Regions from separate parts of the Homo sapiens genome. Here region 1 is linked to region 2. Evidence: fine-mapped QTL for protein levels in blood plasma. A gene starts in region 2. The other region holds a variant in brackets. All regions are shown on one strand. Distances are from middle to middle. Region 1 overlaps SCFD1 (sec1 family domain containing 1). Region 2 holds the start of COCH (cochlin).

The links. PIP is the posterior inclusion probability: the model's chance that the variant is causal. Sun 2018 read protein levels with aptamers (SomaScan).
Region 1: its variant is fine-mapped to the plasma level of the COCH protein (Sun 2018, PIP 0.95).

Annotation. Positions count from the first base shown.
Region 1 is chr14:30,623,502-30,634,827 of GRCh38, reverse strand. It overlaps SCFD1 (sec1 family domain containing 1), which reads right to left. Exons shown (of 25, transcript NM_016106.4): 2 at 6,549-6,619; 3 at 4,263-4,351; 4 at 791-881. Among named protein-coding and RNA genes, the nearest start is that of SCFD1, 6.8 kb to the right of the region's middle. The variant T/C (reference allele first, on the strand shown) is at 6,777.
Region 2 is chr14:30,868,163-30,879,681 of GRCh38, reverse strand. COCH (cochlin) reads right to left here and starts at 5,123. Exons shown (of 12, transcript NM_004086.3): 1 at 5,091-5,123; 2 at 4,710-4,766; 3 at 4,579-4,626; 4 at 1,954-2,110; 5 at 738-871; 6 at 197-259. The coding sequence starts at 4,743. COCH-AS1 (COCH antisense RNA 1) reads left to right here. Exons shown (of 5, transcript NR_038356.1): 5 at 3,130-3,503. RefSeq lists a silencer at 5,042-5,561.

The DNA.
Region 1 (11,326 bases), 240 kb after region 2:
CTCTTCTTGTTGATGTGAACATAGATTTGATGCCTACAGGCGCAGCGACAAGCAAGACAAGGAAAACCAACAAACTAAAGACGAATGATCAGCGACAGAAGGAGCCTGGGTCTTTGATTACCTTATAGTACTTCTGCACCAGTGTGGACTTCCTAATCTCACCCTTATTTTAGAAAAGGAAAACCCTATATAAGTTAGAAAGGCAATATACCTAGGCTTTCTGTTTGTTAAAGCCAGACTCAGACTTTACCAGTACAGTGGTTGCCCTTATTTGCAGGGGTTATTTTCCAAGACTCCAGTGGATGCCTGAAACCAGGTAGTACTGAACCGTATATGTTTTTTCCTATACATACATATTTATGATAAAACTTAATTTATAATTTATAAATTGGGCACGGTAAATGATTAGCAACAATAGCTAGAAATAAAATAGAGCAATTATAAAATATATTCTGTAATGAAATATATTACAGAAAATATATTCTGTAATGAAAGTTATATGAATGTGGTCTCTCAAAATACTGTAATATATTCAGTACCTGGTTAACTGTGGATAACTGAAACTGTGGAAAGTGAAACTGTGGACATGAGAGGACTACTGTATAATACTTCTTCAGCCAAAAGTTTTAAGTCTTTCAGGCTATTTGGAATTCAAAGATAGTCTCAAAAATCAGAGTGAGAAAGTAGGCATAGGAATTTCTGATTTTTCACCCTGGACATCTAGGAATTTTTCTTGAAAAAAAAATCCATTTCCAAATTCAGGAGTCCAGAAAATAAGAACCCATATTACCTGGCACATTCTGTCAATATTTTCTTCAGTTGGCATTACAAAGTATACTGCAGGAACATCTGGAATAGGATCTCGATCAGAGTGTAAAAGCCTAGAAGACATAAGGAACTAAAACTTATTTTTTTATTCACTTATTTAAAACAATATTCCTCAAAATGGGAGTTCACTAGCTCAAGGACAGTAACCAGTGCTCTAAAAGCTCTTGTTGCAATTAATCAGTGAGTTAACCTATCTTTCTCCCATGTCAGTGTTGTTATTATTTATTAGCATTAGTAAGACCCTAATTTCTTGTTAGTCTTCATTTGTTCTATTCTGCTCACACTTTTAGCACTGCTTATGGTCAGACATTCTTTTCTACCAACACTCTCCTTGAATGAGAACTAAAACATATTCAGAATCAATCTTATTCCCACTTTTCATAGAAATGTGGTGGTCAGAGGGGAAGGGTGAATGTGAGGAAAGTGTGGCTCTCTGAGGGGAAAATCAGAAAGCTAGGGGACGCAATGAAAAAAATTTTAGAAGCAATTCTTTAGAAGCTATAAAAAAATTTAACCAAACATGAAATCAAATATATTTTTTAAATGAAAGGTATATAAATGTTTCCTTAAAAATTAAAGACAATCTATTTTTGTCTATTTATTGTTTCATAAGAGAATGTAAGCATCTTATAGATTAAGTCATTTTACAGTTTTCTCCTTTTACAATTTAGGAACAATTTCCATACAAATATCCCAACATCAAACCATGCTTATATGAGGAATATTCACCTCTCTCTAGTCATCCTTCTATAATCAAGGAGAGAGAGGAAAGAGGCACATGCTGCCAGTGAGTCTGTGTTTAATAACTGTTGCCACTGATATCAAGAATGATAATGTGATGGCTGCCATAGGTTGTGGTCTTTTTCACACTGCTTGTCCAACTGTCTAATGGGCTACAACCACCATTTCATACTGTGGAAACTTGTAATTACTGTTTCCTACAAATTAGCCTAAACCAGCTTGCAGGGTATAAAGTAACTGATACAGTATTCTCCAGCAAATAGAGGAGAATGGTTGGAGGCAAAGTACACAAGAGTTCACCATGGTAGCTGTGTAATATTTCCATGCTCTGGTGGCAAGTAGCAAGTTAGGCAGAGATTACGAGACTCTCAAACTGGTAGACTATCCTATTACCCCTGAATGAAGTACTGAGTAAGGCCTCACTTCTGTTAGTTACTGTTACTGAGCCATTACAGTTCAGTAGATAAACAGCACAGAATTAGTGGTCAAGCAATGTGGCCATGGCTCTGTTATTAACTGGTTGTACAAATGTGAGACAATCACTTAAGCCTTCTAAACTTCAGTCCTTCCATTAGTAAATAAAGGAGTTAAACACTTAGTACAGAGACAATGGCACTCAATGTTTATTAATAAACCACAATTTCCAAGGATAGCATGAAGTTAAACTTTACTTCAGTCCATAAAAATTAACACATTATCAAAGCAAACCTGCTTATTTCAGTCTGACATAAAAATGAAAGGAAAACTCATCAAATACCGTATTTCATGAAACCCAAGGTGGTAACAATTTTAAAACATAATTTTTAAAATATATTTTATATACTACTGAGAAATAAAAATGCTGCCAGTTATGACATATCATCAGTGATAAGATAGATCCTAATTTCAGAAATGTAAAAAAGGACATTTGGAATTGACAAACTATAACAGTCTATTAACAAATGCTCATTATACAACTGAAGAATTTGAGCTGATTAAACCAGATTCTGTCAAGTTACTTATCGAAAATCTAAAACTATATTCCCAGTAAGAGTACATTTCAATTCAATATATGATATCATAAAAATTGGTTATAACATCATAAATAGAACAAAATGCAAATAGCTTAGAACACCATAAAATTGGACTCTTTTAGTATACAGAAGTATTAGTATCTATCCATGAACACAGTCCTTCTCCAAACGTTCTTTTTTTTTTTTTTTTTTTTTTTTTCAACAGAATCTTGCTCTGCTGCCCAGGCCAGAGTGTAGTGTCACGATCTCGGTTCACTACAACCTCTGCCTCCTGGGTTCAAGCAATTGTCCTTCCTCAGCCTCCCAAGTAGCTAGGATTACAGGTGGGTACGCCACCATGCCCAGCTAATTTTTGTACTTTTAGTAGAGACGGGGTTTCACCATGTTGGCCAGGCTGGTCTCGAACTCCTGACCTCAAGTGATCCGCCCACCCGGGCCTCCAGAAGTGCTAGGATTACTGGCATGAGCCACTGTGCCTGGCCCCTTCTCCAAATGTTCTACTAGGCAAGCCCATAAAGTACTGCATTTGTTTTATTTTTATTAAACATATCAGAAGCAATATAATCACACAAACTTAACAGTTAAGACAACACAGATAGCCCACTATGGTGATTAACAGTCATTACTTCATAGTCACTTAAATTTTTCATATTAATGATTAATTAGATATTCCTTTTTTTTAAAAAAATATAGACACTCCCTGACTTACAATGGTTCAACTTAGGATTTTTTGACTTTATGATGGTGCAAAAGCAGTGCATATTCAATAGAAATCATATTTTAAGCACCTATAAAAACATTCTGTTTTCAACTTTCAGCACTGCAGTCAATAAATTACGTGAGATATTCAACAGTTTATTTTTATTTTAATTAATTAATTTTTTTTAAATTTTGAGACAGAGTCTTGCTCTTTTGCCCAGGCTGGAGTGCAGTGGCACAGTCTCGGCTCACTGCAACCTCTGCCTCCCGGGTTCAAGTGATTCTCCTGCCTCAGCCTCAAGTAGCTGGGATTACAGGTGCCTGCCACCATGCCTGGCTAATTTTCTGTATTTTTTTTAGTGAAGATGGCGTTTCACCACGTGACCAGGCTGGTCTCGAACTCCTGACCTTGTGATTTGCCCGCCTTGGCCTCCCAAAGTACTGGGATTACAGGCGTGAGCCACCGTGCCCGGTTTTATTATAAAGGAGGCTATGTGTTAGATCTGACTCTGCCCAACTGTAGGCCAATGTAAGTATTCTGAGCATGCTGAGGGTAGGAGAGGCTAAGCTATGATGTTTGGTAGGTTAGGTGTATTAAATGCATTTTTTTGACTTACAAAATTTCAACTTATGATGGGTTTATAAGTATGTAACCCCATTGTAGGTCAAGGAGAATCTGTGTATTTAAATTAAAGGAACAAAACACTTTTAGAGCTGGAAGAGACCTTAAGATTACTAGTTCTTTTCCTTTACATAGAGGGTAAACCAAATCTAAGGAAAAGCCACAAGGCAGAAAATTTAAATTCTGAAATTATAAAGCCTCAGACTGAGGATTTTTTTAAATCCCAGAAATAAGGGGTTGAATAAAGAAGATACAGGGAAAAAATGTTCAATACTACATAAATACTGTAACCTAACACTATTTTTCTCTATAAATGTTCTTTAAATGAATACCACTATTAGAAATATGTAAAAACTCACAGATGCAGAGTGATTCCCATGTCTCTTAGCTCCTTCACAGATAGCAGAGGAGAGATTATATCTTGGCCAAATCTGTCATAAATGAGTACCTATTAAAAAAAACCATGTGTCATCATTATCAGTGAACAACCAATAGTGAACCTATATTAAGACAATGTTGAAGTAAATTTTATTTTAATACATCATATATACTGAATTGTTATCCTTGCCTCAATTTAACATTTTCCATCATTATCAGTGAACAACCAATAGTGAACCTATATTAAGACAATGTTGAAGTAAATTTTAATACATCATATATACTGAATTGTTATCCTTGCCTCAATTTAATATTTTCCATCATTATTTACCCAAATGTCCATCCAGGCAGTAATACGTTCTTAAAGCATTACTACTCAGGCTAAAATAAATAATTATATCAATTTCTTCTTATAAAATTCTTTTTTCTAGGTTTTAAAAAAATAGAGACTATAAAATCCTTAAGCTATCATAAACTTTGAACTTAAAGCCAATTCACGTTCATACCCTTATTTTTTTTCCAGTTCACATATATCTTTTCTAAAAACAGAGATGTAAAAATTAGCCATTTTCAAAACTAATATATAACAAGTTCCAGGACCACAATAAAAAATTTAGTATTTTAAGCATCTCAGGTTAAAAAGATACTCATTAAAAAAAATTAAGTCCCTGGCTGTGGCACAGTGGCTCACGCCTGTAATCTCAGCACTTTTGGAGGCCGAGGTGGGCGGATCACTAGGTCAAGAGATAGAGACCATCCTGGCCAACATGGTGAAACCCTTTCTCTACTAAAAATACAAAAATTAGCTGGGTGTGGTGGCACGTGCCTGTAATCCCAGCTACTCTGAAGGCTGAGGAAGGAGAATCACTTGAACTTGGGAGGCGGAGGCTGCAGTGAGCTGAGATTGCGCCACTACATTCCAGCCTGGCGACAAAGCGAGATTCCATCTCAAAAAAAAAAAAAAAAAAATTAAGTCCCTAAAGAGTATTTGATAGACTTAGTCTATCAAATACACTTCCTCACATTCTCAAAGTATTAAAACAGACAGCTTTGAGGTGTGGTAAGAACTCCAAATGGGCTTTTTAACTCAAAATTAGTTTCACGGTTAAGACAAATAAAAGAGATCCTCAACTGGTAAGCATTTTTCACAACTACCTCAATAATTATTTATGGAGTAAGAAATTGTTAATGAGAGAATGAAACATGTTGTTATGAAAACACATTTTCTTAAATGCCAGGATTTCCTTTAAAGAGGCTAAAAATCTTTCTGCTCTAGTTATAAAAGGTTCACGTTGCATCTTTCAAAAATCTTCCCTCTTTTAATCTCAATACATGTGTATTATTAATTTTAATGATATAAAAAGTGATGGGTAGGAAAAGTATCTGACAAAAATTTGTACCCAAGAAATTCTCAAACTATTTCAACCAAAAGCTCAATATTGGTCTTAGAAACAAGCAAGTATAGTTTATGCAAGAGGCAATAGGAAGATGCCCACAAAGGAACAAGAAGGAGAAAATTAGGGAATACTCTGGAGCTTAAACTATGAAATCAATACAGACAACTTTAACTACTTTTAGAGTTAACCCAAAGGACTTATAAAGACTCAAGAGAGTTTTCAAAACACCCTAAATTCTAAACATGTTGATTTGTTCTTAATTTTTAGCAAGAGAGAAATATAAAGAGACTGTTAACCAGTAAGTTTAAACCCAATCAACTGTATTATAACATCTGAAGAAAGAGAGTCTGCATGAAGTTTAAAATGAAGAAGCCTAAAGAATTGGAATTTTTAAAGGCTCTCCAGTATTTCTCAAAGGAAAAGATTGTAGATTGCTTTCTGGTTCAATTAAGTTTTATATCTCATAAATTATTAAAGTGGTATTACAGTTTACAGATCATTTTCTCATGAGTTTGTTAAAATAATCCAGGCCCTCTGAATGTGACTAACTCCGAGCAAGCTTATAAAATCCAAAGTCTGGACTTGAAAAGCTAAGGAACAAAATATCAACCAGGAAAAAGACCTATCAGTGACATCCTACCAAAGAGATCAACTGGACTCCCTAGATGAAAATTACTATTTTATCACTTGTCTCACTCCATAGAATGTCTGTCAAAACAATTCATATTAAGAGATCATGTTAAATAAGGATAAAACATTCATGATAACTAATATGTGTTACTTCTTCCATATTACAATAAATTCCCTCCAATTACCACCAATAAGGGCTGAGAAAAACAGAAATCAGTTCCCATTAAGATAAACTCTTACCTTCCATACTGGTTCTCCTGTGCTGTTTTTAATATGAGGCACATTGAAATTCAACATACGCTTCAAAGCCACTGAAAATAAAAAGTTTTATCAAATATTGTCATTGTTTTTTAGGATTTTATTTTTCCTCCATCATCATTCACTACCCCAAAGCAAAATAAACTAATCAACTCTAGTAAAACTGATTAACCAAATGACTATATGTGTAGAACTAGGGGTCAGATCTTG[T/C]AAGACTATTCCATCGACAGCTAATTGACATGTATTTGGGAGATTTCCCAAAACACAATAAGCATCTGTCCACAGATGAAATCGCGGGAAATGTTCAGGAAGAACTTGCAATGGCCTCAATATACTGATGCTGTTGCCTGTGTACTGTCTGGCTGAAAGCATAGATTAAGGTAAGTCTTTTTTTTTTTTTTTTTTAAGTCTGAGTGGTCTAGTGAGAAGGATCAGTCTGTCTGTCTGTTTTTTTTTTTAAGTGTGAGTGGCCTAGTGAGAAAGATCAGTCTTTCTTTTTTTTTTTTTTTTTTTTTTCTGAGACAGAGTTTCGCTCTTGTTGCCCAGGCTGGAGTGCAATGGCGTGATCTCGGCTCACCACAACCTCTGCCTCCCAGGTTCAAGCAGTTCTGCTTCAGCCTCCCGAGTAGCTGGGATTACAGGCATGCGCTGCCATGCCCGGCTAATTTTGTATTTCTAGTAGAGATGAGGTTTCTCCGTGTTGGTCAGGCTGGTCTAGAACTCCCGACCTCAGGTGATCCACCCGCCTTGGCCTCCCAAAGTGCTGGGATTACAGGCGTGAGCCACCACGCCCGGCCTGGATCAGTCTTTCTAAAAACAAAATTATCCATGGCATATTCAATTGGTTCATATACAAAACCTTCATACAGATCTGTCTATAGTTATGTAAGAGTATATTTTACAAACAATTTATCCTGTCAGATTCACCGAAAAGTTGCTTAAAATTCTATGTCCCTTGGGAAAACAGACTTTCCCATATAGTAGATAACTGATAATTCCAGCTAAGCAAATATACAACATCAAAAATCACAGTTACGGGTCTGTTACAGTATTTTGTGTTATTTATCACTCATCTGTAACAGTGTTACAGAAAATGAAAATCCCTTAATATACTTCTTCGTGAAACTGAGATGGCCAAATATTCAAGAGAGTATACTAGTTGTAATTTCTTGATTTAATTTTTATAAAATTGACAGCCTTAAAATCCACTTGGTTGATTGTTAAAAACATTTGCATCAGGCTTTAAGTAATACAGAATAACCTATACTCCAAAGTCCTACGAGAGAACTATGTAATACTAAAATCACCTGAATATCAACTTACAGCATATTCATTCACTCACAAGAAAAACTTCTATTAAATGCTTGCTTGCTGAGGTAGGTATAATGCTGTTAAAACTGCTATTACTGAACAGATTGTACTTCAGTGATACATTTGCATACTTATGTGTGTGTACATACTGTTGTGCCGAACCCTTATTGCCTCCAGTGGGGAAGATACCCATGTTTGAGAGGCCTAAGAAGAGACCCGGAGCCAGGAAATGAGACACAGGGTTTTAATGGGGGCAACACACATAGGAGAGTCCAGTGACAGTGGGCTGGACAGGAGAACTGTATACTCAGTGGCAATGCGCTGGGCAGGAGAACCATAACTGCATGCAAAAAGTGGTTTATATAGCAAAAATGTGGTTTATACAGCATTTTCACTTAACATTTCCCTAACAACCTCCACCTGGCAACCTTCATTCAACCCAAAACTCGGGGCCTTGATCCACTGCATGGCCTATGTTTCACTGGATGGGCTGGGGGCTCAGATGTTCCTCACAGACAAGGAATGAATCTCCAGGTGGGCCATTTTGATTCCCTAGCTTGAAACACATATCCAGGTGTGTCTGCAATACAGGGTCATTCTCAGGGCACGCTTAAGTTATTGCTATCAGGTGTATTTACCATACACCTACAGACATAATTTTTGGTAAAATGTTATTACCTAATGTCCAGCCAAAAATACACATTACCAATATTACCTACTTCAGAGGCCCACAGGTTTTACATTAAATAAAAATGTATTTTATTTAATGTATTTATAATATTAAATATATTTAATATAAACAAAAAAACAGTTTAACACTTAAAACTGAAATAACACAGGAAGCACGGAGGGGGTTTCAGGATTAACTCTCCCACTGTGCATTTGCAGAGCTCTTCCTCCACCTCCAGGCAATAAAGACACCACCACCCTGGCACTCACGCCCAAGAGGGAGGAAACCCTGTTTCTGGGAACAGCTGTTCACACTCTTGAAGCCTGACAACTTGGAAGAACGAAAGCCTGAGCTGCCATGTGAGCCTCAGGTGTTTAGTATGCTGCACAGTTAGGCCTTAGCTAACTGAAAGAGGCCAGCAGCAGCAAATAAGATAATCCTACATTCGCCTTCTCAGCCCAGTCTGAGATTTTCTCCAACTTTGAGCCTTGGCTAACTTATTAAAAGGTATTTTGATATACCTTTTACCTATATCAATATACCTATTGATATACCTATATACCTATATACCTATATACCTATACCTATATAGGTATACCTATATGCCTATATACCTATACCTATATAGGTATACCTATATGCCTATATACCTATACCTATATAGGTATACCTATACCTATAACAAAAAGGATTTGTTAATGGAGTACACGGCCTGTGTTCAGAGTTTACAAGAACGTAATTTTACTTTTATCAGAGTTTACCCAAGGCTTAAACCATGACTTTATCTGAAATGACAAACCATTTTTCTTATTGGCTCTAAATATACTACAGGTTGAGCATCCCAAGTCTTAATATCTGAAACCTGAAATGCTCCAAAATCAAAATTTTTTAAGCTGGTGCTCGGATTTTGAAATTTGGGATGCTCAACCAGTAATAATGCAAATATTCCAAAATCAAAAACACTCCTGGTCGCAAGCATTTTGGATAAGGGATACTCAACCTGTATCCATATTCCTAGACTTGGTTAATGTCATTACTTACATACACACTATTCATTCATTCAACACGTTTGATGAGTGCTCACCACAGGCACTGTAGTTATTGGGGATCTAGCAACTGAACAAAACAGTGAATAAAATCGCCTGTCCTCAAGTAGCTTTCATTCTAATTGGGGGATAAAAAAAATAAAATAAAAAAAAAGTAAAACATATGGTATGTAGATCATGGTAAGTGCTTTGAAGAAAGGTAAGATTGGGAAAGGGGAAGATGGAGTTGAGGTGTAATTTTAAACAGAATAATTGGGGAAAGCCTCCTGAGAAGGTAACATTTGAGTAAAGACCTAAAGGAAGTGAGGGAGTGAGCCATGGAGATTATCTCTGAAACAGTACTCCACAAAGAAGAAACAAATACAAAGGCTCGAAGGTGGGAGCATTCCTGGTGGGTTCAAGGAGAGGGAAGAGAAATAGGGAGTGAGGTCCAAAAGCTACATGGAAACCAGATCGTATAAAGCCTTGTAGAACACTGTAAGATCACTTTGGCTTTTATCATGGTTGAAATGGGAAGATGCTGGAAGATTTTGAGCAAACATATGGCATGATCAGTTTGGGTACTGTGTGAAAAATAATGAAGGAGAACAGGATTGTAAAAGCAAAGAGACCAAATAGGTTACTGCAGAAATTCATGGTGGACAGGACCTCGGAATAGCAATGACAACAGTCAGATCCTGGATGTATTTTCAGAGTAGAACTGACAAGATTTACTGAAAGATCTTACATGAGACATGAAAGAGACAAGTCAAGAAAACTTCAAGGTTTTTGACCTGAACAACTAAAAGGACGGAACTGCCATTAACTGATATGGAGTAGACTGAGTTCAGATGGGACGGCCAGACTAGGGATATAAACCTGGGAATCATCAACATACAGATAATACTGAAAGCTAAGGCGCTAGATGAGAACACTAATGGGACCCTGCAATGTTGAGAAGCTGGGAAGATGTGCAAGAACCTGTAACGAAGACGCATTCAATGAAGAACAACAGTAACACGGAGCAGGAGGCAACTGATTCTACCTATTGAACTGAAGGTATGGATAGAGGGGACAGTGAACCAGGAAGAAAGGAGATGGCTTGTGGGATGACCTTCAAAAGATCAATAAAGATTTTTCAGGAGACCAATAAAGATTTTTCAGGCAGGCAAAGCAAGAAACAGGCACGTTAGTTTACCTCTATCTTACTTTCCTCACCTGTAAAATGGAGATAATACATAATCACCTAATGCAATGCCTAACAATAGTAAATGCTCAATAAATGCCAACTATTATCTCATCCACCCAAATATTCTAGTATCTAGAATATTTAAGGACTGTGAGTTATCTCCCAAAACATTCTCCATAGGCATGAGGGAAATAGCTAATTCTGCATTATAATATATATACAAGGATTTACCTTCCTCTGAAAATAAGGCAGAATTCAATGACAGTAAAAATTTGATAAAAAATAGATCTAGCACTACCTAGTAATTCTGTAAAATCTTACTATGTTTATTTCTGCAGAAATACAAACGATTAGATTTTAATGATCTACAAAATTTCTGCATACAAGTTTACGGCCACGCAAATTTATTTTTCAAAAAGCTCTCTTGTATTGGTACAGTTTTACTGACACGTTATTTTAATATGTAGTATAGTCATCAGAAACACAGTATTAAAACAAATGGAGCTTCCATTTGTTTAAACATATACAACGAATGGCAGGTATGCCCCAAATCTTATTTGAACTT
Region 2 (11,519 bases):
ACAGAGTGAGACCCTGTCTTTAAAATATACACATAATGAATGTTTCCATATGTAATATACCAGTAAACTTAAGGTATTTGCTTTGTTTCTCTTTAATATCAAATTTCTTTAAGAAAAGCTTCTACCAACAACACGTTTATTCATAACTTCCAAATGCTGTGCCGGGCAACTAGGAGATAGGTTTCATAGTTCATACCTGTTGGTGGATGTGCTGTGGACACTGCTTGTCCTGTGGCCTCCTGTGTACTACTTTTGCCTTCTGTTAAAATAAAAATAAGCTTATTTTTTTCCTTTTCCTTCTTTACCAAAGTATTATGAATCTAATTTAGAGCTCTCTACAATGACAAATGTAATAGGGTAATGGTGATTGTAGTTACAAACATCCTGCTGCATGCTAGTTTCAGAGAACCAAAATGCTTATCCATTATATCTTCAAAGGATCATCAAAAATGTATTTAGTAGTTTTTCAGTTCCTTGGTAAGTGTCCGGGCATTCTGACTGCAAATAATTCAAGTTTCTATTGCCATCATCTGTCAGTAAGATTGTCTTCTATTCACCCAAATTTGGCTTCAGTGGGTACTTGACCCCTCAGTCTAACCTACAGTTTACCTCTATAGGTCAGCTTTAGTCTTGATCACAGGTTTTTCCATCAAGGTTAAAGAGGCTGAGCTAAAAAAAGCAGAAAACGTTTGGGGGGTGGGAGAATATTACAGAATGAGAACAATAATTATACCTACTAGTTACTGTGAAAGAAGCAGACCATCTAGAAAGCATTTGAGACTGGATGCCATTGGCATCTACTGAGGAATAGTTTTCTCGACCAGGTAGGCTATAGACTCGTACAGGTCCCCCTGAGTTGCTGATTACTCCCCTGTAACACAAGAATAGCAGCTGAGATGCTATCCACACTTTTTCAGGGCATCCCACTGACTTATAGTGCCATGTTGTATCTATTGCTTTGATTAATCAAGAAAATAGCTCATCAGGGAAGTCATCTAAAGATTCTGCTTTATTTATTTATTTATTTGATGGCGTCTCGCTCTGTAGCCCAGGATGGAGTGCAGTGGCGCGATCTCGGCTCACTGCAACCTCCACCTCCAGGATTCAAGTGATTCTCCTGCCTCAGCCTCCCAAGTAGCTGGGATTACAGGCATGCACCACCATACCTGGCTAATTTTTGTATTTTTAGTAGAGACAGGGTTTCACCATGTTGGCTAGGTCTCGAACTCCTGACCTCAAGTGGTCCATCCGCCTCAGCCTCCCAAAGTGGTGGGATTACAGGTGTGAGCCACCACTCCCAGCTGCTGCTAGCCTTTTAAAAACTTGCTTACACAAGAACAAAATTTGCCTGGAAAAAAATGGTTTTGTGCTGTTGAACTTCTTAAGTGTTGATAAGAACACATTTGTAATATCCCATTACCCACAACTTAGAAATTCAGAGCACCAAACAATTTTCCTAAGATACTCACTTTAGCTACATGCCTTTGGACTGAATTTTTTTAGAAGTATTATACTGGCTATTCTACTACAGGATAGCATGGCACTTGCTAACAATAGTCACCTTGGGCAAGATACTTGACAACTCTCTGAGTTCAGTTTCTTCATCTGTAACTGGAGTAAAATTCTACCTACCTTGTAGAGTTGTGGTGGAAGTTAAAACAATAGGTGGCACATAGTAATAACTCAGTAATATATCACATGATTAGGAATGTTTTGGAATCATAGCAATCTAGCCATCAAGAGGTAATGCTATTTGCCTTTTGTCAGAAAGCTTTCCATGTGTATTTGGTGTTTCAAGTATATCCAGGAGAACCGTGAAAATATATCCATTTTCTGTGGCCACAATGGCAACAAAAGAAAGAATGCAGGGAGGAAAGGGATCCAGATGGGTAAAGCAGGAAAGGAAATAATCACGTCTGCATTTCTCTCCCACCCTGGTGTGTTTGGGCTTACCTGTGGACAGCAGCCCCACATATGCTCGATACAGAAGCATATACTATGTTCCCATACACAGAGAATTCCTCAAGAGGGCAGCCCCCTGGGCAGAGGACATCTGCTTTCTCTTTCCTGATGTCCAAGCCTCTGGTAAAACATGTGATAGCAATGGGAGCTGAAGAAAAAGGAGATAATATTGTAAGCATTCTTAGGACTTCTTGGGGCATAGTGGTGGGGAGACTACAGTGTGAGATTTAAGTTTTACTTCCCTAATTTCTACACTTCTAGTTATGACTATTGACTTATATACCCTTCCATACCATTCCAGATTTTGGCAAGCCACAAGGTTGTTTTCCAATTTAATATAGTCCCCAGCCACTATAAAACTCTAATGTGAAAGTTCTGGGTTTTTATTTCGTTTTTGTTTTTGAAATGGGGACTCGCCAAGTTGCCCAAGCTAGGCTCAAATTCCCGAGCTCAAGTGATCCACCTCCAACTCCCTAGTAGCTGGGATTACAGGTGTGCCACTGTGCCTGGCTTCTCAGTTCTTAACCAGGTTGGAAATACATAATTGGAACTATATCTGAACTAGAAAATAAAAGTCATTTAATATTAATTATAGAAATATAAAAAATCTTGGCTGGGCGTGGTGACTCATGCCTATAATCCCAGCACTTTAGCAGGCCAAGACAAGAGGATTTGCTTGAGTCCAGGAGGTCAAGACCAGTCTGGACAACATAGCAAGACCTCATCTCTTCTAAAAAAAAAAAATTTTTTTTAAATGGCCACACGTGGTGGTGCATGCCTGTACTCTCCGCCACTGGAGAGGCTGAGGTGGGAGGATTGCTTGAGCCCGGGAGTTCAAGCTTGCAATGAGCTATGATTGCATCACTGCACTCCATCCTGGGTTACAGAATAAGATCTTGTCTCCAGAAGAAAAAAAAAAATTTTTAAATCTCAACTTTGATGACGCTATGTACACAGTTGCTTGAGGTAAAGATAGTAAATCTGGATTGAGCCTTTGTGGAACATTTTCATAGACATGTGCACAAATCAAAGCCATCCTTTCCTTCATAGGACCATTTATCCTAGTTAGCCTACAAATGCAGATCCTTAAACTCACACATTAAGGAAGCCAACAAAAAGATGCTTAGATTCACAGAAAGTTATCTAACTTGATTGTTCATTTTATAGATGAGAAAATTAAAGCCGTGGGGTTAATTTGCCCAAACAACATTCTACAACTCCCGAAGGACAGAAAACAGAAAAGTGAATCCCTTCAGAATACAGCATTTTTATCTTAATTGAACCTGATTATTTCTGCTCCAGATCTGTCCAGTGAGATTTATCAAGCAGCGGATGCATTTTTAGAAAGCACTGTTAATATTCTCAAGTTTTACACTGTCAACCTAACAAAGAATCAGTTTTTACTATAAATGATGCTAGGAAGAGACAAGCTCTTGGCAACAAGTAACAAGATAACATAATACAACATGTTAATTTGTGAATTTACTGTCGATACTAAATTGAGATTAATGTTATTAAATGCTATTTTTCAAACATGGGAAGTTGTAGTTATCCAAACCTTTTTAAAACATATATTAATTTTAAAAACCTTTTTTTTCCAAGGCAGAGGAATACTTTCTGGCCATACTGTCCAACTGAGTACCTTGCCTGTGACAAGCACCCTCCTCTGTGCCCTTTGTGGTGACAGGTACCTTACATTCCATGGAAGAGAAGGAAGGATGCAGGCGCAATGCCCATTTCTTAGCTCTGAAGCAGTCTAGAGAGCTGAGAGGTTAAAATCCTTACCCCTAAACAGCCTCATACCTATCATCAAACAGCCTTAATCCTTCCTCCCATTTTCCGCTGAGATGGGGGCGGCATCGGAATCCGGTGCCAAGACCGACCGCCTTTAGTTGCGAACACTGACTTTTGTTAAGTAGAGCGGGAGAAATACAGCCATGAGGGATACTTAACCCTCATTCCTACTTTCAAGGAAAACAAACGGTAGCTCTTAGGAAAGCGTTGCCTTTTACACTGGAAAATACACCAAACCACACACCCATACCCGGACCTCTACACGTGGTACAAACTTTTTAAACTCTCTAGCGTGTAGAGTGAGACCGCGAGTGCTTCTGATTATAGGGGTTACACCTAGAAACATAGCTAGCGAGTCAAACAAGGTGGGACAGCGACGTTCGCCTCCCTCTCTCTCGGCTACGGCAACCTGAAGTCGGGTCTGGGCGGCTTCTCCTCCACCCCCAAACGCAGCAGAGCCCAGGACTGGTGCGCTCCTCGGTGAGGCTCAAGGAGTCCTCCTTCCTCGACCTCCTGCTGCCGGCGCTCAGCGGGCCCGGGGTCTGGGGCTGTGGGTGGGCCTGGAGGAGGCCTTCTTCCTAGTGCTCTTGGAGAACGTCCCCCCACTGGACCCCAGGGGCCCCCTACCATGGGAGAAACAGGTGAGCAGGAGCAGATCGGCTGCAGGGGTTAACGCGGGCGCGCCACGCGGCGGCTCAACCTTCGCGCCTTCCTCCTCAGGCGGTAGGGCTGAAGCCCAAGGGGCTGGATCTGAGTCCCGCTTGTACCCGCTGGTGCTCAGCCCCTGCGACCGCCTGGACGCACCCCAGCTCCCCCACTCACCGGCTCCCTCGCTGCCCGCGGGCCCCGGCAGCAGCAGCAGACACACACCTGCGAAGAGAGAAGCGTGAGGGCTGGCTCCAGCCTCCACCCAGCGGAGCAAGGGGCCGGGGTCGTGAGGGGCGCGCACCCACCGAGGCCGAGAGCCGGGATCCAGGCTGCGGACATGGTGACTGATAGGCTGCTCACACCTGGGAGAGAGGGAGAATGCGGGCAAGGCCAGGGTGCGGGAGGCCCCGCGCGTCACCTCCTCAGAGCCCCGCACCCTTCGGATCCCCGGGCGCGGCGCAGAGGAGAGAGGACACAGACGACCCGCTGCTCCAGGCCAGCGCCCCTCTAGGTCTGGGAGGCGCCTCGGCGGCAAATCGAGCGAAGCCCAGGATCGGTGTGCAACCCCGCACCGCGGGGAGGCGGGGGCGCCAAAACGACGACAGACAGGCTGGGAGCGACAAAGAAACAGGGACAGAGGCGTCAGGGATCCCTCGCACCCGCGCCCGCCGCCCGGGGCTCCGCACCTGCTCGAGATCCACCCGGCTGCGCCCGAGTGCGGAAGGCAAGGCCCCCGCGGCCGCTATAAAGGCTGGGCCGTGCGCATGAGCACTGTGCGGGGGGCGCGGGAGGAAGCGCGGGAGCCGGTCCCCCGGGGCCCGGCGGCGACTTCCAGCTCCGCCTTCGCCCCCTGCCGGCCCCGGGGTGAGGCCGGCGCGGAGGCGCCTCCTCCAGCAGCGCAGGCTCGGCCACCTGGACGCGGCGCCAGTCCCTAGAGGGGCACGAAGGTCCCCGTGCCGGCGTCTCAACGAGTGTGGAGGGCCGGCGGCCCCGACGGCGGCAGCAGCGGCCTCGCCAGCCCTGCTCTGCCGGGACCAGGGCTGCTGAGGCAGCGGCGGCCGCTACCCGCCCCACCCAGCGAGGCCTGGAGCTTCTGAGAGCTGTCAGGTCCACGCGGCCTGAGAACCGAACTTCTCAACTTGGTGCTCTCGTGGAAAGAGTTCCTACTTCTGAAATAAAACCACCCTAGGTTTGGTAAACGCATGCCGCGTTTTTGTTAGAAACCCTGTCAACTGACTGCTAGCTCGTTGGACCTTAGGGATTCGGCCTTGCGCCTTCGTTTCTGCTGGAGTCCTACTTTCCCCAGTGGTTCAATTTGTGCTCCTGCCTAGAGCCACGCGTGTGAGACAGCCCTGACCCCAGCAGCCGGTACCTTTGCTTCTTTCTCACCTCAGGAAGAATTTATGCCTGATTGCCTTTCGAAATTCCCAGACTTGGTGTCTTGTGACTGCACAGAATCTCAGATTTGATAATGTGTTCTCCTTCTCCCCGCACCATCCTGCTAACGTTTTACAAATGGAAATGGAGAAGGAGCAGAATTCTTGAGGAGTGTTAGTGACAGGCGACCTGCATGGCAGCGGAAGAACCAGACCCAGGCCCAGACGCTAACCTTTCTGGTACAATATAAACTTTTTCAAATAGCCTTATTTAGTTACAATTTACATGCCATAAAATCCATCCGTTTTGAGTGTACAGTTCAATGATGTTTAGTAAATTTTCAGAGCTGTACAACCATCACCACAAGCCAATTTCAGAACAGGTTCATCCTCCCCAAAATGATCTCCTCGCCATTGTCAGTCAGTCTCTTCTCCCACTCCTAGTCCTAGGCAATCACTAACCTATTTCCTGTCTCTATAGATTTTTCTTAGTGGTCGTTTCTTATAGATGGGATTATACATTGTGCGGCTTCCTTCACTGCACAGAATGTTTTTGAGGTTCATCCATGAGGCATTATAGAACAGTACTTCCTTTCTTTTTATTGTTGAAAAGTATTCCCATGCCATTTTATACTGAGAAACAAATACACCACCATCACCTGGAAGTCAACTAGTGTAGTAGTCTTAATTACAACTATCTTCCTGATTGGAATGACTTAGTATTTGTATCAGGCAACTAAGGAGTGTTGATTTCATTCCCTTTACTACCTGAATGTCTTCTGGAGGGAAAGAGACCAAATAACATTTGAGGGCTGGGAGGTTTTTGATGTTTATTTTCATGGCTGCTTTCAAGATTTACTCCCTTCCCTGGTATAGAGAATTACCCTTTTCTTAGAAATCCAGTAATCTAGCCACTGCCCCTGATATTTTCCATGGGAGAAATTTCAAGCCTCAGGACAATTAAAGCTGTCTTTTCCATTATTGTTTATTGAGTGTCCTCAATCAGGGTTGGATAACCTCCCCTAATTAGGCTGGACAAATTGTCATGATGCTATATAATTAGGAAGAGTCTGTACGCTGGAAAAAACCTGCCACTTCACAGCTCAGCAGGCAGGTCCCAAATGGCCAAAGGGGTAGATGCTATTCAGAGCCCCCACAGGGCACTGGCAGCCCTCCTGTGATGTAATTTCAGTGAGTGATTTGGCAGAGTCAAAACTATGCAGCTATTTCCATGACAGACCCTGAGTCTGTAACCATTAAAAAATAAAGGAAATACCTCACTGAATTTCATGGTTGTTTACTGAGATTCATCTTAATTATTTTGTTTTGAAACATTTAAGAGAAGTTACTCTGTCTTTACTATTTTTTTCTTTTTGGTAAGGCCAACCAAGGAGAGTGGAAGAGTGGGGTTTAGACTCTCATTCTTAGCTAGTTTGTAGTTCATGCTCACCATAAGTATATTAAAGAAAAATATCTGAATTTAAGAGGTAATTGCCTCTGCTTTGGAAATATCTGAAGAGAGTCAAATCTAGGTATATTTGACTTAAAAAGACAAATTGTTAAAATGACAGAGTTTTGTATTCAGTTGGGTGATATTTTAGGGTAATCGTACTCCTAGGATGCCTGGTTAATCCTGCTTTATTATTTTTTTAAATATTTTATTTTATTTTATTTTATTTGAGATGGAGTTTTGCTCTTGTCTCCCAGGCTGGGGTGCAATGGCGCTATCTCGGCTCACTCCTACCTCTGCCTCCCAGGTTCAAGCAATTCTCGTGCCTCAGCCTCCTCCTGAGTAGCTGGGATTACAGGCACGTGCCACCACAACTGGCTAATTTTGTATTTTTAGTAGAGATGGGGTTTCACTATGTTGGCAAGGCTGGTCTCCAACTCCTGACCTCAGGTGATCCACCTGCCTTGGCCTCCCAAAGTGCTGGGATTACAGGCGTGAGGCCCGGCCTCATTATTTGTTAATTTTTAATTTAATTTAATCTTATTATATTGTTATTAATTACTATTATTAGAGACTTATTCTCACTCTGTCATCCAGGCTGGAGTGTAGTGGCACAATCAAAGCTCACTGCGGCCTCAAACTCCTATGTTCAAGAGATCCTCCCACCTCACCCTCCTGAGTAGCTGGGTCTACAGGTACACACCACTATGACTGGCTCATTTTTTACTTTTTGTAGAGAGGTAGTCTCATTATTTGCCCAGGCTGATTTCAAACTCCTCACCTCACGTGATCCTCCCGCCTGGGCCTCCCCAAATGTGGGGATTATAGGCATGAGCCACTGCGCCTGATTTTATCCTACTTTAGTGGGAAGTATTTGATATTCAAAATTTAGATGAACTCCGTGTAGAGCAGTGGATTCCTGTCTGGGCTGCACGTTGGAACTACCTGGAGAGCTTTAAAAATACTCATGCCTGGGTCCCACCCCAGAGATTTTAATATAATTGGTCTGGGCTGGGGCCAGGGCATTAGAATTTTTAAAAGCTCTCCAGGTGATTCTAATGTGCAGTCCAGGTGCTCAGTGTTAGAGGTTAAGCTAATTCTGCTAATCTTTCATTCTTCTTTCATTATCTTTTCGTTAAAATCCAACTTTAATATGCCTACTGCATTCCCCTGATAAAAAATGGAAGCATTTTCTGGCCTGATGGTTGTTTAAAAACAATCCCTAACAAAAAGATTGAAAACTCAATTTCAAAAGTAATTTTCCCTGGGAATGCTGCACAGTCACATTTCTGACTTTGTGCAGAATGCGCTGGCATTGTTAGGGAAATAAGCTGCCTCTAACACTGATACCTGGGTGGCATTGTCAGGCTTCAGGATGCTGCTGATGGCCCTAAAAGAGTTTCTCAAGGATGGCATAGTTACCTGATGGGATTTGGCTTGTGCTTACACAGATAAAACTCTTAGTTTATATAGGCTCTGTCTCTGTTCCGTTGTTACCTAGGTATGAATCTGCCCCTGAAGTTTTCATATTTTTGTTGTTGGTCTTTTTTTACTTTATTTTACCTTTTAAAGGAGTATCCAGTCCTGTTCTATCCTCTATACCATTTAAGCTCCCCGGTAAACTTTTACTTAGCCAATGTAATGCATAGCAACACGGTTTTATTTCGATTATGGTGGCCTCAAAGCAGCTGTCCCCAACCTTTTTGGCACCAGGAACTGGTTCCATGGATGATAATTTTTCCACGGGGTTGGTTGGTGGGGGGCGGATGGTTTTGAGATGAAACTGTTCCACTTCAGATTATCAGGCATTAGATTCTCATAAAGAATGTGCAACCTAGATCCCTCGCATGTGCAGTTTACAACAGGGCTCGAGCTCCTGTGAGAATCTAATGCCACTGCTGATCTGACAGGAGGCAGTAATGCTCACTCGCCCATTCACTGCTCACCTCCTGCTGTGCTGCCCAGTTGCCAACAGGCCACAGACTGGTACCCACCTGCGGTTGGGGAGTTGGGAACCCCTGCCTTAAAGTGAGTTTGTTCAGTTTTAGGAAGTGTATGTTTATCCTGCAGTATCCTTTAAGTTTCTATGATAGATTATAGAGCAGAAGCAGCTTGGGAACTCTTATCACCTATATTATTAAACCCACATTGATGTTTATTCTATATCTAGTTTTTCTGATTCTTTTCTGTTGTTCACATCTTATGCTAAGCAAGTATATTTATCTAGCCTTTCCATTTTTGATGATGTCTAGCAGGAGAATAAATGTCTACAGCCTCAGAGGAGTGAAAATTAAAAAGTTGATTCAGAGATATCCCTGTGACTATGAGATCTCAGTTTCCTCTCCTATAAAGTGAAGGGGATTAGACCAGCGATTGGAAGAGACTTTCCTCTGGTCACATTCTGTGACTGGCAAGTGCTCCCTGGGTATATATAGGCTCTGGGGGCTGTGCTGTCTTCCAGGGTTTGGGAGGCATTAGGAAACACTGGCTGTGCCAGCTGGCTCCCAGCTGTCCCAGGACTTATCCTTTCTTACTCAAAGTCTCTTTTTATTCACCTCTCACTGCTAAACTATGGCCTGGCTCATGTTTGTCCCTTATTTAACAAGAAGTAATGAGGTCACATTTTCACTGGAGTGCCACTAGGACTTCCTTCCTAAGAGAGGAAGCTGTGATGGGAAACATAAATCAGTTCTGCAAGGCTTGGCATTTATCTCATGTAAACTCATCAGAGGCAAGGATCTTTCTACCTTTTGTTCATTGCTGCACGCCTACTCCCAACAAAACTGTCTAGCACACTATATGTACTCAAGAAATACTTGTTAGATGAATGAATCAATCTCATTCTGTCTTGACATTTGCTACCTTATATTGATTTTTTAAAGATTTTTATTTTAGAAGTTTTATGTTTACAGAAAAATTAATAAGATAGTACAGTTTCCAAACCTAGTTCCCCATTATTAACATCTTATACTAGTATTGTACAGTTGTCACAATTAACAAACCAATACTGATACATTATCATTAAGTGAAGTCCATATTTTATTCAGATTTCCTTTTTTTTTTCTTTTTTTTTTTTTGAGATGGAGTCTTGCTCTGTCACCCAGGCTGGAGTGCAGTGGTGCGATCTTGGCTCAATGCAACCTCCACCTCTCAGGTTCAAGCAATTCTCCTGCCTCAGCCTCCTGAATAGCTGGGATTACAGGCATGCACCACCACACCCAACTATTTTTTTTTTTTTTTTTGTATTTTTAGTAAAGACAGGGTTTCACCATGTTGGCCACGCTGGTCTCGCACTCCTGACCTCAGGTAATCCGCCTACCTCGGCCTCCTAAAATGCTGGGATTATAGGCGTGAGGCACTGTGCCTGCCCGATTTCCTTATTTTTCACCTAATATCTTTTCTCTGTTCCAGAATCTCATCCAGGATACCATATTATATTCAGTCATCGTGTCTCATTAGGCTCCTCTTAGCTGTGACACTTTCTCAGATTTTCCTTGTTTTTGATGACCTTCACAGTTTTGTGGAGTACTGGTCTGCTGTTTCGTAGAATGTTCTTCAATTGGGATTTGCCTGATGTTTTTCTCATTATTAGACCAGGGTTATTGTTTTTAGGAGAAAGACCACAGAGGTAAAATGACATTCTTGTCACACCATGTCAAGGGTATATACTATTGACATGACTTATTACTGTTTTTTGTTTGTTTGTTGAGATAGAGTCTCATCTGTCGCCCAGGTGGAGAACAGTGGTACAATCTCAGCTCAATGCAGCCTCGACCTTCTGGGCTCGAGCAGTCCTCCAACCTCAGCCCCACAAGTAGCTAGGACTCAGGCGCATGCCACTACCCCCAGCTAATTTTTCTGTATTTATTTTATAGAGACAGGGTTTTTGCCATGCTGCTCAAGCTGGTCTCAAACTCCTGGGCTCAAGCAATCCTCCTGCCTTGGCCTCCCAAAGTGCTAGGATTACAGGTGTAACCCATCACACCTGGCCAAGTTAAGGGCTTAAGAAGCTTACCCTTAAGGAGTGGAGAATTATGTTCAACTCCTTTGAGAACAGAATATCCATAAACTATTGAGAATTCTGGCCAGGTGTGGTGGCTCACACCTGTAATCCCAGCACTTTGAGAGGCCTAGATGAGAGGATCGCTTGGGCTCAGGAGACTGAGACCAGCCTCGGCAACAAAATGAGACTGTGTCTCACATTTTTACAATTTTTTTTGGTCAAAAAATTTAAAAAATTAGCAAGGCATGGTGGTGTGTGCCTTTGGTCCCTGCTACATGGGGGGCTG